Regions from separate parts of the Homo sapiens genome. Here region 2 is linked to region 1. The links come from fine-mapping of genetic effects on gene expression. Tissue or cell type: nasal epithelium. Region 1 holds a variant in brackets; the other region holds the start of a gene. All regions are shown on one strand. Distances are from middle to middle.

What was found. PIP is the estimated chance that this variant, and not a neighbour inherited with it, causes the effect.
Region 2: RABGAP1L starts here. The variant in region 1 is fine-mapped to the expression of RABGAP1L in nasal epithelium (TOPMed, PIP 0.93).

What each region holds. Positions count from the first base shown.
Region 1 is chr1:174,950,832-174,959,096 of GRCh38, forward strand. RABGAP1L (RAB GTPase activating protein 1 like) reads left to right here. Exons shown (of 26, transcript NM_001366446.1): 20 at 6,626-6,718. RABGAP1L-AS1 (RABGAP1L antisense RNA 1) reads right to left here and starts at 3,430. Exons shown (of 6, transcript NR_121196.1): 1 at 3,326-3,430. The variant T/C (reference allele first, on the strand shown) is at 3,378.
Region 2 is chr1:174,154,972-174,162,971 of GRCh38, forward strand. RABGAP1L (RAB GTPase activating protein 1 like) reads left to right here and starts at 4,549. Exons shown (of 26, transcript NM_001366446.1): 1 at 4,549-4,686. It overlaps RABGAP1L-DT (RABGAP1L divergent transcript), which reads right to left and starts at 4,316. Exons shown (of 4, transcript NR_121197.1): 1 at 4,193-4,316; 2 at 3,916-4,019; 3 at 656-726. RefSeq lists silencers at 4,255-4,654, 4,775-4,954.

The sequences.
Region 1 (8,265 bases):
CTTCTGAAAATGTTAACTTGGGTCATATCAGCCTTTAAAAAAGAAAAACACAGTGATGTACTTTACCAGTATTTGCATCCATAAATTAATATTTTTGTATCTTTCATTTCTGAATTACAGAAGCAGATTCATCAAACCCTGAATGATAGCTCTTACAAGTGACTGGCCCAATGTTAAAACTGAGCACAGGAGAAATGCTCTGTGTTTTAACTGGGCAAGGAAGCTTGCATAAACCAGTCATCATGAAAATCCTCCTCACTGAGGTGCTTCTCCCTCTCCAACCCTCTGTCCCACAAATTTCTTCTTGATCATCTTTGTACCTTTTATAAATATCTGTTATTGCGCTTATGAAACTAGATGATAACTAGACACATATTTGGCACTACGTCTAGACTGTCAGCTTCTTGAGCAGCTTTACTTTAATCATCTGGTCCCAGGCAGTAGAGCAAAGTGGTTAAAGAGGGCAGGCTCTGGAGGCCAACTGGATTTCATTTCTGTATGATCTTGGGCAAGTTACCTATCCTCAACTTATTTGTAAAATCCAAATAATACTTCCCTCATGGAGTTGCTGGCAGGATTAAATATAGATTTTTCTAAATTAATAGGCTTAAAACTGTTAGGAAATTTTTTGACTTGAAGGAATTACATACTTAGTGGCAATTACTGCTAACCAATAACAAAGCAGAGGGAAGTGGACATCTGAATACATCAATGCAGTGCTAAAAACCTTGCACACTGGTCCAGGCCTCTCTTCTTGTCTTTATTGATAGTTTAGCTCAGAGGCTTTTAGTATGAATCCCACATCTTCTCAAGCATGTACCCCTCAAACCTACCAGCCCCCAACATCCACACCTGGTTTAGAAAGGTTTGTAGGCATCCTGTTTGTCACAGTGACAGGCAGCCGCTACTGACATTTAATAGGTGAAATCATAAATGGGCCCAGGGATGCCATGGGCTCAGAAATGGAGAGCGGAGTCTACACCAAAAATTATTCCACCCAAAATGCCAATAATATCTTACCTTGAGAAACACTGGTAGTGCCCAGGGTCTTTTCTCTACTAAAATGCAAAACCAACTTTTCACAAAATTAATATACTATTTCATAAAGTCAGAATATGCCAAAGATCATGCCATATATATTACAGAGCATAGATCAACTTGAAAAATCTTTACGTATGTATTCTGTTATTTCTCTTTTCTGTGTGTAAGTTCTTTTCAAGTTACTACAGTGAGTTTCAAATTTGTTATTTAAGAGTTCTATTATTCTGTTCATTATGATCCGAAGTTTAAGATCTGCGGTGTTGAAAAGCACTCCTAAATATACAAAGCCCTTGAACTCCTAAATAAACAAAGCCCTTGAACTCCTAAATGTACAAAGATCTTGTTTGGGCCAGGCCTGGTGGCTCACACCTGTAATCCCAGCACTTTGGGAGGCTGAGGTGGGAAGATTGCTTGAGCCTTGGATTTTGAGACCAGCCTGGGCAACATAGTGAGACCCTGGCTCTACCAAAAAAAAAAAAAAAAAAAAAAAAAGCTAGGCATGGTGGTGTGCCCCTATAGTCCCAGCTACTCAGGAAGCTAAGGTGGGAGGATCACCTGAGTCCAGGAATTTGGGGCTGCAGTGTGCTGTGATTGCGCCACTGCACTCCAGCCTGAGCAACAGAACAAGACCCTGTCTCTTAAAAAAAAAAATGATGATTGAGTTTGATAATCAGGAAACTTAACCAAATCTTATATGTAAGCAAATAAATATGTTTTTATTTGTTTGTTTTATTTTGAGACAGGGTCTCACTCTGTCACCTAGGCTGGAGTGCAGTGGCATGATTTTACCTCATTGCAACCCAGCCTCCCAGGCTCAGGTGATCCTCCCACCTCAGCCTCCCAAGTAGCTGGGTCTACAGGCATGTGCCACGATGCTCAGCTAATTTTTGTATGTTTTGTAAACACAGGTTTTCACCATTTTGTCCAGGCTGGTCTTGAACTCCTGAACTCAAGTGATCCACCCACCTTGACTTCCCACAGGGCTGGGATTATAGGCATGAGCCACCACACCTGGCCAAAATAAGTTTTATTAGAAATAACTCACTTTGGGAGGCTGAGGAGGGCAGATCACTTGAGGTTAGGAGTTCAAGAGCAGCCTGGCCAACATGGGGAAACTCCATCTCAAATAAAATACAAAAATTAGCTAGGCATGGGTGGCATGCAAAAAAAAAAAAAAAAAGAACTAATGCATGTGAAATTCAAATATTAGTAAGTATTCAAAATAAGATATGAAAGTAAGAATACAAAATAGGGTGATATCACTGGTTGATATGATTAGTGAGATGAACATTATTAAGGCAAATTCTTCCGATAATTATTGTTATACAACATGATTAATATATATTCAGTCTGAAAGAGTCATATATACAAATATGAAATAAACACCTCAAATGAGAAGAAGAGAGAAAACATGGAGAATGAAGAAAGTTGGGTGTATTCTTTTCAGTCTTCCCCTCCCATATCTCCGTCTGAGGCCAGCATGGCTAATATTGAGAAAGAGTAAGGCAAATGAGTAATTATTGTGCTCTGTCTTTTACTGTTATTGAAGGTCACTGTTTAACACTCCCTCGCCATTCCCCTAACCACTCCCCTTTGCCTTAAATTCATTAAGCTGTATTCTTTGTATTTCCTGATAACAGCTGACAAGGACCCACTCTCATCTGTAATGACAGGTGAGGGTATTGATGATAAGTAGAGTTAATAAAGCTTCTCCAGTGATTTAGAATTATAACGCTCTGAGTATTATCATCAGGGGAATAGATGAAAAAGCCCATTTCATTTTGTGCAGTGTCCTTCAAACTGCTGGTTATGAAATCATTTTAGAGGGTCTGTGAAATCACTGTGGAATACGATGAAACGTAATAGAAAGTATCAGCAGACACTGTGGGAGATCGGTCAGAGCGGTGGGGAAAAACTATAGGGAAAGGACGCAAACCTTCTGAAAGGTCAGAAGGTTCTGCAGAGCCCCAGGGGAGAATAGCTGAAGGCAGCTGTTCTGTAACCCTGAGGCATTGGGCAAGGAGTAGGTACAAGGCAGTGTAGGGGAATTTATCTTAAACAAACTTGTTTACTTATGTTGACCAGGAACTGACCTTTGATCATCCGTGGGGACGGTCCCCCTGAAAGGGGAACAATAAATGTTAATTACCTAAGAGGTTTTTAAATTTCTTTCTCCAGAAAGAAAAATTTCAAGCGTCTGAATCCCATTCAGTATTCTCTAAAATAAAATCAAGTTTGTCCTGAAAGATGGTTTAAAAACTGAAAATCTATTTTCTTTGATTACCTCATAAATAACAAGAGTTTCATATCAGCTCTCCTGTCTCTTCCTCCTCCAC[T/C]CTTTTCCCCTCTTTCACATTGTGCCAATCACACAGGTGGATGCTCAGTATCACCCCACAGCACAAGATAAATAAGCTTGGAAGGTTTCCTAGCAACATATTGTTCTGGGAACCTGCTCTGTTTCCCTGAACAAGATGAAGCCAAATATCCTAGAATCTCAGCCAGATGGGAAAGGATTAGCTTATTGAGAGTGTTATTGCCTTTTTTAAAAAAATGTTTCACTTTGAAATGAACCTCTTAATATAAGTAGCAAAAGTGACTTTTAAAAGGACATGTAAAAATATCCCTTTAAAAGGACATTTTTTTCTCTTACATGTAAAAAAAAATTGATAATAGTTTGAAGTTTAAAAATATGGTTTCAGAATTCTCTAGGCACAAGCTTCCAGTATGTAATTCAGTCACTGGTGAGTGGATCCATTTTAGAACCATGTAGAAAATACTTCCACATGGAACTAATTCTCAGCCTGGTGTCCAGTGGTATGGTATTCCTGCTGTAAAAATACTGAAATACTTCCGATCTGGTGGGAAAATGGCTCCTGGAGTAGGCTCTCTCCTCACAATACCTTTAGCTGCTCCCCTTGGCCCTTGTTTCTGCTCCTAGGGAAACATTGGAGACACCTTGTTACTGCTTAAAACCCTGAAGCTTCCCCTTTTTCTATAGCTCCAGGGCTATTTTAGTGCTAGTGATTTGCAACTTCATCTTCAGAGTCTATTTTTGGTTTTCTCAGTGTATGATTAATGTATATAGAGAAAATAAAAGAAATTGAGACTGCTATCAAAGCCAAGAAAAATAATGTTGTCGTTTTGTTAACACATGATTGTGTATATTTCCCTTGTTTATCTAATGATCTGTGAGGCTACACAGTTGGCAGGTGGTGCTTTCCTTTCTATTGCACTCTAGTTGGTCACAGTATACTTGTTAGAGGTCTCTGGAGATGGAGTAATAAAGGATTCGTGTTTCTCATAACAATATTCAGCAGTGGCTTTGCAATTCAGTTACACCCTGGAAAATGTCCTCACTCCTTGTTTGGCTGGGGAGACATTCCCCCATCAGCCAGATGAATATTCTCATAATGTGGTTGTTGACTGGTTTCTATCATCTATCAGGTTTGGACTGAGTTTGTGAAACTTCCCAATTGTGGTGAGAAGCAGATAATTCTAGTACTTCATAGTGTTCCTGGATAAGAAGAACAAAGTAATTAGAATAAGATGGGGAATGACACCTGGAGTCTTTGTTTTTTATGTAACAAATTATCTGGCCAGATGCCAGAGAATTAGTACTGTCCTCATTTTAATGAAAATAAGGAAATTGTGAGATAATTTTATATTCATGCTAGATGCTTTCCATTCTCTTTTGCTCTCTCACTCATATGTATATGTTTTCTAAATACCATATTTTAAACTCAACAAGGAACAATCTGTTGAGGGCCTAGTATGAGCCAAATACTGCTAGGTATTATGGCAGATACTGAGGGCAACACATCATCCTTGCCTTCTCAGAGTACGCAAGAAGTTTGCAACATAGCACGTTTGTAATCTTAAACCAAACAAAAACATTAAGGAAAGGTGTTGCTGTGTAAAGGAATCATAGGCTAGGCACAGTGGCTCAGGCCTGTAATCCCAATGCTTTGGGAGGCTGAGGAAGGAGGATCGCTTCAGCCCAGGAGTTTGAGACCAGCCTAGGCAACATAGCCAGACCCCATCTCTACAAAAGTTAAAATAAAATAATATAAGTAAGGGAATTCTATAACTTTGATTGTCCAAAGAAAGGCTAAAAGTAGATTTAATATGTATTATGGAACAGAATAAGTTCTAATACGTTAATTTTGATTGAATACTTATTTTAAAAAAAATTTTAAAAATGTCCATAAACCAGGCATTGTTTTAGATACCTCTCTGTTAACTCATTTAATTCTCCTGACACCATTATGAGGTAGAAATTTTGTTTACCTGCTATTTTATAGATGAAGAAACTGAGGCTAAGAGAGTTTTTTTGTTTGTTTGTTTTAAAAGACAGGGTCTCATTCTGTTGCCCAGGCTGGAGTAAGTGGCCGTCATAGTGCACTGCAGCCTGGAACTTGTGCGCTCAAGCAATTCTTCTGTCTCAACCTCCAAGTAGCTGGGACTATAGATGTGCACCACTGTCCCCTAAGAGAGGTTAAATATCTGTTTACTGAGGGCTTTTATACTACGCTGTGCTTATTTGTTTATTTTTAAAATTCTAAGAGTCCATAGGAATCTAGTCTTTTTTCAGAAAATAGTAAACTACTGTCTTTTGTGGATGACATAATTTTAGCAAGAAATAAATGGGTTGTTTAGATGACTTTCTATTATCTCATACAGCATAATGATTCTATATTTGAGTTTTCATTGTCAAACACTAAAACCTCCTTTGTTTTCAGTGTACTAACTCCATTTTAGAATATTTTTCTCTTCTCTTCTTTTTTTTTTTTTTTGAGACTGAGTCTCGCTCTATCACCCAGGCTGGAGTGCAGTGGTACAATCTTGGTTCACCGCAACCTCAGCTTCCCAGGTTCAAGCCAGGCTCATGCCTCAGCCTCCAGAGTAGCTGGGATTACAGATGCCCACCACCATGCCCCGCTAATTTTTGTAATTTTAGTAGAGACCGGGTTTCACCATGTTGGCCAGGCTGGTCTCGAACTCCTGACCTCAAGTGATCCGCCCACCTCAGCCTCCCAAAGTGCTGGGATTACAGGCATGAGCCACCACGCCCAGGCCATTTTAGAATATTTCTTGTAGCTCAATTTTTTACTTATATAAAATAATAATTTTCATTTTCAACATAATAGAAGGATATGAGTGAATTATATTTAAGAAAGTTAAAATTAATAGCACTATTAAATACATTAACAAGAGAAGGTTGTGACATCAGCAATATTATTTATAACAGAGGTGGACAAACTGTAGCCTGTTTCTGTAAATTAAGTTTTCTTGGAACACAGCCAGGCTCATTTGTTTAGGTATCACCCATGGCAGGTTTTGTATAATAATGACAGAGTTGAATCTTTGCAACTTAGACTATATGGCCCACAAGGCCTAAAATATATACTGTCTGGACCTTTACAGGAAAAGTTTGCCAACCTCTACTCTGGAATCTCTATTTTTCTCCTAACTTTGAGTTGAGCATGTTCCCTTAGAATGCCAGAAATTTAACTAGCAAACACACCTGAATTTTTTTTCATAAATGGTGTCCTTGTCTAACATGGTTTTCCTCAAATCCCTGCAGGTACCAACCAAGAAGCTGAAGAAATATGAGAAAGAATATCAGACAATGCGAGAGAGTCAGCTGCAACAGGAAGACCCAATGGATAGATACAAGGTATGAGAAATATGTTGCACCTATCAAAGTACCTTCTTTTTTGTTTTAAATGAGACTGAGTCTTGCCGTGTTGCCCAGGCTGGTCTTGAACACCTGGCCTCAAGCAATCCTCCCACTCCAGTCTCCCAAGTAGCTGGGATTACAGGCACGAGCCACCATTCCCAGCAAAGTACCTTTTTTTTTTTTTTTTTTTTTTTCTTAAAGCAGCAGTTGTGGCAAGTTCAATTCCCTCTGTTCTTCCTTGATTGATTTAGATGCTCTCTGATCATGCTAACTGTCCAGGTATGTTTTCATTTCAGGAGACTCCCAAATAGCCAACCATAATATTTCTTTTCTTTCAGTTTGTATATTTGTAGGTAACTCCAGCTGTTGCATTTATACTGGGAATCTTCATAAGAAGCTGAGAGAAAGAGAGGGGAAAAAGAAAGTGGCTTTCTACTTTCAAAAATGAAACAAAAAGGAAAAATGGCAAAGTACTGTTTTAGCTGTGCATGTCATATCCACAAAGACTTTTAGCAGGTGAACTGTTCCAAGACTGACACAAGGATGTTTCAAACTTGCCTCTGTCTGTAGAAAATGTTAAAAATACCAACTCACTTGGAAGGAAAAATAAAAATCACAAAGGTATATTGAGCACAGTAGTGGTGTTTGTTGCAACATTTATTTCCACAAATGAATTTATGAACAACAGTGATATTTGAGTTAAAGTATGAAGTTTCAGAATCAAAATAATTTCATTTTAATACGTTCGTTAATTGTGAATCTCTTCAATGGTAATTAGCAACACTGTTCCCAGGATGCAAAGTTGGGAAACACTTATTTCCAACTTATTTTTTTCCAAGTAAAATATTATCTCTCTTCAACATGCTTTAACTTTTCAGACTCACACAGATACGTAACAGCTCCTTCTCCCTCCATATCAATACACTAAGATAAAAGAATACTGTATTTTCAGCACTGAGCAGCAGTGCCAAAATCTCCTGCCAAGAAATGGACTGTGTGGCATTATTAATTAAATCACCCACATTGGGATGACTTCCACTTTTGTAACTAGAGTTATCTTTATGTGGTCAGAGCTGGACATAGGCAGCATAGTCACACAGAACATCTTATCTCTGTTGCTGAATTGAATAGCATGGGATGTGTGCAGAGGAACATGGTGGGAGTATGTAGGTTTTGTAGTCAGACAGACCTGAACTCAAATCTTGCTCATTTTTTAGAGCACAGGATTTGGACTCCAAATTGAGGGTTTTAATCCCCATGCCACCATTCAGCATCTTCGACTAGTTATTGAACCTCTTCCTCATCTATAAAAGATATAGTGTTTCTGATTCCTTGATGGATTGTTACAAGGATGAGGGATGCTGTATGTTAAGGACTCAGCTCATAGTTGTGTTCAATAAATGGCTGTTATTTTATGAAGCCTACTACTACAGATTATGCAATTATTACTAGAATAATGCCACCTTATGTGGGTCTTCCCCTCTAGTCCCTTATTGATTGTTCTTATTTCTCTCAAGTATTGCCAACCAATAATCTCCCCTTGC
Region 2 (8,000 bases), 800 kb before region 1:
CAGTGAGCCAAGATCGCACCACTGCACTCCAGCCTGGGTGACAGAGTGAGACCCTGTCTCAAAAAATAAAAAATATAAAAAATAAAAGAAATAAAAGTAGTAGGCTAGCTATTCTTCCTCAAGAGACATTTAGGGCCAGGCGCAGTGGCTCATGCCTTTAATCCCTCCCAGCACTTTGGGAGGCTGAGGCGGGTGGATCACCTGAGGTCAGGAGTTCGAGACCAGACTGGCCAATGTGGCGAAACGCTGTCTCTACTAAAAAAATACAAAAATTAGCTGGGCATGGTGGTGCGTGCCTGTAATCCCAGCTACTCCGGAGGCTAAGGCAGGGGAATTGCTTGAACCCGGGAGGCGGAGGTTGCAGTCAGCCGAGATTGCGCCACTGCACTCCAGCCTGGGCAGCAAGAGTGAAACTCTGTCTCAAAAAAATAAAATAAAACAGGCATTTAGATCTCTGCCTGCCTCTTCTACTGCTGAGGAAATTTTCTGCTCCCTATATACATATTTTATTGTGTTCTTAGTCTTAAATGGGCGATTGCAACACAGGTTTGGTTTATCATATAAGCTCATTATGACTTGTCCAGATTACTCTGAATTTCAGCCCTACATAAAACCGTGAAATAAAAAAGGTTTTCTTCTGTATCTCCAGTTTTACCTGTTACATCTTTCGCTCTCTCGGTGATTTCTCCCTTCCTCCAGTAGCCAGTGCCTCTTTTCCAAATCTTCCTGTTAGTAAAAAAAAAAAAGACTAAAAAATCATGTGATAAACTCATTTATATAAGATTAGTGATTCGAGTCATGAAGTGCTCTTCTTGGGCAAAGTTGATTTAAATAGGGCACAGGATTTAAGTCAAAGTGAAAAAAAAAAAAAGTGTAACGATGGGCTTTCAGGCATCAGGTAGCCCAGTCAGGGAAGGATTTTTTGGTGTGGTCAAATTCCTTTCAAGACCCTGTAAAATCTTGCCAGACAGCTTGTTACCTTTCTATCATTGGAAACGTATCCTTGGAAGAGTCATATAATGCAACTAAAGTTATTTGTTCCATAGTATGCATGGAAAGATTTAGCTTTATCTGTAAGAAATACAAAGCCAAACTCGAACCTTCTTAAAAAGCTGTCAAAATCAGGCCGGGCACGGTGGTTCACGCCTGTAATCCTAGCACTTTGGGAGGCCGAGGCGGGTGGATCACCTGAGGTCAGGAGTTTGAGACCAGCTCGGCCAATATGGTGAAACCCCATCTCTACTAAAAATACAAAAATTAGCTGGGCGTGGTGGTGGGCACCTGTAATCCCAGCTTCTCAGGAGGCTGAGACAGGACAATCGCTTGAACCCGGGAGGCAGGGGTTGTAGTGAACCGAGATTGCGCCACTGCACTCCAGTCTGGGCAACAGAGTGAGACTGTTTAAAAAAAAAAAAAAAAGCTGTGAAAATTTATTGTCTCAGAGGAAGGGGTAGGCTTCAAGCTGGGTTTGAGTGCTTCCATCATGTGTCAGCTTCATCCTCAGGCTGGCTTCCTCATGGTAGCAAAGTGGCTGCAGTAACTATTGGACTCACATCTACCCATCACACTAGCCAGAGTAAGAAAAAGAGCACTTTTCATTTCCCAACAAACACAAGATATGGCCTTCCATGTGACTGGCACCAATTTAGACTCATGTCAGTGCCTATCAGTGAATACTGACAGGTCAAGTGAGAATGGGATTAGGCTGATTATCACAATCACTGTCCACACCTGGAGCGGGAGATGGGCCTAATCAGATCCTTGGCTGTCTTGCAATTGCAGAGGGGTGGAAATATATTCTGGGGAATCAATCAATATAATGCTCACTATAAAATCAATATGATATTCTGTACCATTAGATACCAGTTTAAACTCTTACATTATTGTTCAATGTTTAACTTGTTTCTAATTTTTTTTTTCTTTTTTGTGGAGACAGGGTATTGTTATGTTGCCCAGGCTAATCTTGAACTTCTGGGCTCAAGCAATTCTGCCTTGGCCTCTCAAAGTGCTGGGATTACAGGCATGAACCACTGCACCTGGTCTGTTTCCAATTTTTGATATTACATTTTAAACTAGGAGTTGCAGACATAAATGAGAGAAACAACACTGTAAGATACAATAGAGAATGTAGAGACTTTGGCAAAAGAGAGAATGCATGTCCTGCAGCTGATCGTTATCATGTAATAATGTAAGCTCACTGTTACCAAATCTTCCACTTTTTAAAGAGAAGCCCAAAATGCATGTATAATCTTCTGGTTTTTAACTTTGGATATGTGTTTTTTTAAGCACCATGTATGCCAAACAAAACATGTTTGTGGGTTTGATTTGTACCTGGGGCACCAGTTTGTCATGTTATGAATCATGCTGGAGTATTTTATAACACCATCTCTCAAAGTGAGAGTTTCAGTCCTTTCATGGACCAGGGCTGCTAGGATACGCTTAATGCAAATGAAGCCACAGTGGAAAGAGAAGTGAGCAGCACATACCACATGAAGAATGCTTTGTTATTAATTTTTTATTCCTTTTAGTTTCTCGACTAAAAGCCTGAAGATCTGTTAATAATTTTTTGGCATGTGCTTAGAATTGTTTTTCTGGTGGTAAGGATGAGTTTGCATCAGATCACCTTAATTGTCTTTTATCTAGGTTCTCTCATGACTTGTCTCTTATCTATGTTGTACTGTGAGGAAAAGTTCAGTTTTAAAGAATGACCCCTGTTGATGAGAGGTGTTACATGTGGCCATGGGACAGGATTTTTCTTTTCCTTATAGCAAGTTGGCACATGAAGATAGCATGCTCCACTTAAATAGAAGAATTAACTCGCAGTGGCCAGTGGTGTCCACTATTGCTTTCAAAGACATATGGAACTGAATTTGGGGAACACTAAACTTGTTTTGGACTTGCCATTTTTTTTTTAAATTCTTTTTTAGCTAAGTTACCTATTGAATGCCCATAATTACCACATCCATTGTCCTTTTTTGTCAAAAAGCTTCACTCCAGTTAGAAGATACCTGAAGGCAGAAACTGCGGCTTTGTCAACTGTTGATTTCCTCATGGCGCGCAGTGTAAATTTACTAGTACTTTATTTAGTAGAGGCTTAGTACTTACTGGTTGGCAGATTTATTAATAGTTCCTGTACATCTCAGGAAATCAACAGATGATTTATGTTATTCTAACCCTAACTTTATTAAATATAATAAAAACTTTCAGCATTTATTGTCAGGCCCAGGGCTAGGTAGGCTCCTGAGATACAGAAGTTAATAAGGGAAGCAGCCCAGAAGGTAGGGGAAACAAAAAAATAGTTACAACACTCTTGATATGTCTCAGCATCTATAGACATTAACATCAGGAAAAGCGGGGGTGTGGGGGGAAGGAATTTGTCAGGGAGGGCCCTTTGGACAAATGTCACGTTTCTCAGAGTAGCTTTTAAATATGGGTGGGAAAATGAGGGCAGGGGAATTGAAGTGGGATAGAAGGGAGATATTTAAACTAAAGTCATTCTATGGCTGCAATCACTGGACACTATATTCACTTATCCATGCAATCACATTCATTGAGTGCTTCCTATGAGTTAGGCAGGGTGCACAGTGTAAGATACAAATGAATGATACAGGTTCACAGCGGTTGTCTAGTGGGATAAAATGCTGCACAGGGCAACCTGGATAAGCCTGACATGTTAGGTGCCACAAAACTACAGAACAAAGTGCTAAGGAGATTCGGAAAATTTACAGGTCATTTCTGGTTGCAGGATCTAGAAGAAGGATGTCCACAATTCAAGGATCAGTACAATCTTCGTAGCGAAAAAGCGTTGGTTTATTCTACCTCTACCTAGTTTGTACCTCAACATCTTTTACCCCAAAGGATAAAAAGGTGCAAATGAGGGCACATTTTCTTCATATAATACGTAATGGTGCTTACTTATTGCTTTCCTGTTCATTCCCCGCAGGTGATTTCCCTCTTCAGTCTCCCCCGAGTCTCACAGAAGGAACTAACAAGGGAGCGCTTCACAAGCACACAGACACCTTCAAACAGGCGCAGAAGAGTACTTGGTGAAAAAGTATTCTTTCAGGTGACTTTCCTTAAGATTACTGAGCATTAAGAATGAAAATATGTAAACCAGGTTTACGAGCAAGAAAATAATCTCTCCACATTCAGAGTTAATCTTCCGAACTCAGCAACTGCCAGTAGAACGCACCCCGGTCAGGGCGGGCTCGCGGGCGCGGTCCCACCCCCAGGCCCCTCCGCCGCGGAGGTTCTCCAGCGCCGCCCGTACTCCCGCCTTTCGCGCGTCCCTGCTCTAACAGCTCTGGTTCTGTCAGGACCTCACTCCTCCGCTCCCGGCGCAACCGCGGCCACGCAGCGACGTGCACGCGCGTGTGCGCCGCCGCCGCCCGGCAGAGTGGGCGCCTCCGACATCAGGAGCGCGCACGCCGCGCAGAGGGGCCTGGACGAGCGCGCTTCCGACCCGCCGCCACCGCCTCCTCCCCTCCTTCTCGGCCCGCCCCCTCCCTCGCCTCTTCCTGCCAGGCGGCCCTTCTCCCCTCCCCTCTCAGTTCCCTCCGCCCTCCTCGGGCTCCAGCGGTGGCGGAGCGAACGGGACCGGCCCGGCTTCAGAGCGCGAGGTGGAGGGTGGAACGCGGGCGCCTGAAGGAGTTGTTGTCTCGGCAGCGCCCGCGGAGACGTGAAGAGGTGAGGCGAGGACGGCCTCCTAGGGACACGAGGGCGGCCCGGCGGCCCGGATCCGCGGGCCGAGGCTGCCTGGGTGTGTTGGCGTCGGGCTGAGCCTGGGGAGGGTCGAGATGGGGCCCCAGCCGAGGACTGGGATGCGGGAGGACCGCGGTAAGGAGGGTAGGGGGCGGGTTCAGGACTGTCGGCCGCCTCCCGGACACCGCAGTTCTCCCAGGTGGCCGCTCCTCGCGGATAGGGCGGGCGGGGTCGGCGCCCTTACCTGGGGGTGGGGTAGTGGCTTTGGCGGCCGCCTCCTCCAGCTGTGCCCTCCTGACATTGCTGCCTCGGCGGCTGCCGCCCGCTGCTACGCTGTGGCTGCTGCTGGATTCGCAGTCCCAGCCGCCCTGCGTCCGGTGGGCGAGTGGTTAGGGTATTTTCTTACCCACACGCAGGCTTCTGTACTCGACCATTTCTCTCCCTCGCCCTTCCTCTTCCTCCGCCGAGCACTTTGCTCGGCTCCTGCTGTTGATGCTTGTGGTTTTGCAGTTTGGGATGGGATGCGTTCCGGGCAGATCCCTACCTGTAGGGAATGCCCCGCTTCAAAGTTGACCTCCTGAGCCATGACAAACACCTCCCCCCAACCCCCACCCACCTTGTGAGTGCTCAGTGTCCTGATAACTGAGTCAAAGTTTCTGAGACTGGGCTAGTACTTTGCACTGGTCGCCAACGGTACAGGGCTGGGCAGTGCGTCAGCATGTGGAAAGGGGCCACCGGCTAGCGGGAGGTGGCCGGGTGCATGGGAGCTGAACTGACGGGTTTCAGATACTAGGCAGTGTGTCCAGGTCCTTGGATCTCTCAGATAGGGTTATATTAGAATATGTACCAAAACTTGGGTGGTCACTTGCAAAATTGGTTTCATGCAAGTAAACTGAAATGCCAGCCTTATTACACTAATGGTAAGGAGAACTTTTGCTTGCCTGACAGATTTCAGCGCAGTTTGGAAAATGATTTTAAGGCCTTTATTTTTGGCACTGGAGGGGTTTAGGGATTTTTAATACATTTAAATTTCCTCGTGCATAGTGGGAGGTAAGTAGTTGCTTGTTAAAATTCTGAAAACACAGTTTCATGAAAACCTTCTGACTTTTCTTACAGTAGTGTTTATATTTGGCATCTTCCGTAGAATATCCATTAGTTATGATGTCAGAAGATACGGATGTGAAGTTTGCTTTTTGTGATCACATTGGAAGTGGATTTTGTTCATGGAAAATACTGGTTCACAAGCTCCTAGTACTAGAAAACTGGCCTGTGATTCATTTTCTCAGTAGAGCGTCCCTTATGAAATTGACAATGAGATTTCTAAGGAGAAAGACTAGTTGAACTTTATGTATACATTATCATCAAATTGTATTAAATGTACACCTGCCTGAGGGGTTAGCTCTAGACTTTGAGTTAGACTGGTGTCTATACTAAATCAGTTCAATAAATGCGCTGATATTATGTATTATTCATTTGGAGAGAAGTAGATAAAGCAGGGCAGAGTTTATATTTTAACATATTATGTAGCCTACATTTGCTCTGATGTGTATTATTATTATTATTATTATTATTATTATTATTATTTTTGAGACGAAGTTTCGCTCTTGATGCCCAGGCTGGAGTGCAACAGCGCGATCTCGGCTCACCACAACCTCCGCCTCCCGGGTTCAAGCGATTCTCCTGCCTCAGCTTTTTGTGTAGCTGGGACTACAGGCATGCGCCGCCACGCCTGGCTAATTTTGTATTTTTAGTACAGACTGGGTTTCTCCATGTTGGTCAGGCTGGTGGAACTGCTGACCTCAGGTGATCTGCCCGCCTCAGCCTCCCAAAGTGCTGGGATTACAGGCGTTAGCCACAGCGCCCGGCCTCTGATGTGTACTAGTAAGTCATATGGGGAGAAGTAGATGAAATAGGGTAGAGCTTATATGTGAACATATTATATAACCTACATTGTCCTCTAGAAAGCTGGAAACAAGTTAGTAAGTCTCAGTACTATTGGGGCATATGGTGAATATACAAACCAACCTAAAAAAGTGTGACTGTAAATAGATGAAGTTTGTTTGTTTCTTTTAAAGAGACAAGGTCTCGCTCTGGCGCCCAGGCTGGAGTGCAGTGGCTCAGTCCTAGCTCACTGCAGCCACGAAGTTCTGGTCTCAAGAGATCCTCCCACCTCAGCCTCCTGAGTAGCTGGGACCACAGGCACATGCCACCAAACCTGGCTAATTTTTTGTTTTATTTTTGTAGAGTCAAGGGTCTCACCATGTTGCTCAGGCTAGTCTCCAACTCCTGGCCTCAGGCAGTCCTTGCGCCTCAGCCTCTCGAAGTGCTGGGATTACAGGCCTGAGCCAACGGTGCTTGTCCCATTTTTTTTTTTTTTCACCTGAGTTATTTGATGGGAATTTCTATATATTACAGTTGCGATGTTCTGAGAATTTTTGTTTCTTTGATAATTGTTTCATGATTTAGATGTTTTCTTTTTACGCTGGTAGTTATGATTTTTTTTTCCTTTGAATGAAAGAATTTTATTAGGCATGTGAAACAGGAGTTTTCATGTGATCAGCTCTCCAGTTCTAAATTTGTGACTTTTAAAAAACTTGAATTTTTTTCTTTGCCTTAACCCAAACTTGAATTTGCTCAGCCATTGTATATTTATTTGAACTCTCAGATGATACAGCATTGAAGCAGAAAGTCCTTTTATCCATGCTTTTGGAGTAATCAAAAGAAGGAATTCTGTTGTGCCAAGTAAAAATATGTGTGGGAGATAGCTAGGCTTCAAGAGATTGACTTTGAAGAGAGTAGTGGCTAAGTAGCAAAAATTTCCTATATTGAAGGTGTAGAAGTGGGCCTGCATTCCAACCTACCATTGTCTTCAAGTGGGGTATGGATCATTATGACTGGTTAGAGGGGGTTTGGAGAATGAAGTTGTTGCTGTAAGCCTATGGGATTCCCAGGCACAGAGCTTGCTTATGTCTTAATTTTAATGAGTTCTATATTTTTATAACTCTTGACTTATATAAATGGGTCAGCCGTTGAGTCTGAGGATGACCAGCAGCCCAAGGCTATTCCAGGTGCTGGTATTTCTTTTTTTTTTTTTTTCTCTTTCTGTTTTTTTTTTTTTTTTTTTTTTTTTTAATTATACTTTAAGTTTTAGGGTACATGTGCACATTGTGCAGGTTAGTTACATATGTATACATGTGCCATGCTGGGAATTGAACAATGAGATCACATGGACACAGGAAGGGGAATATCACACTCTGGGGACTGTGGTGGGGAGGGGGGAGGGGGGAGGGATAGCATTG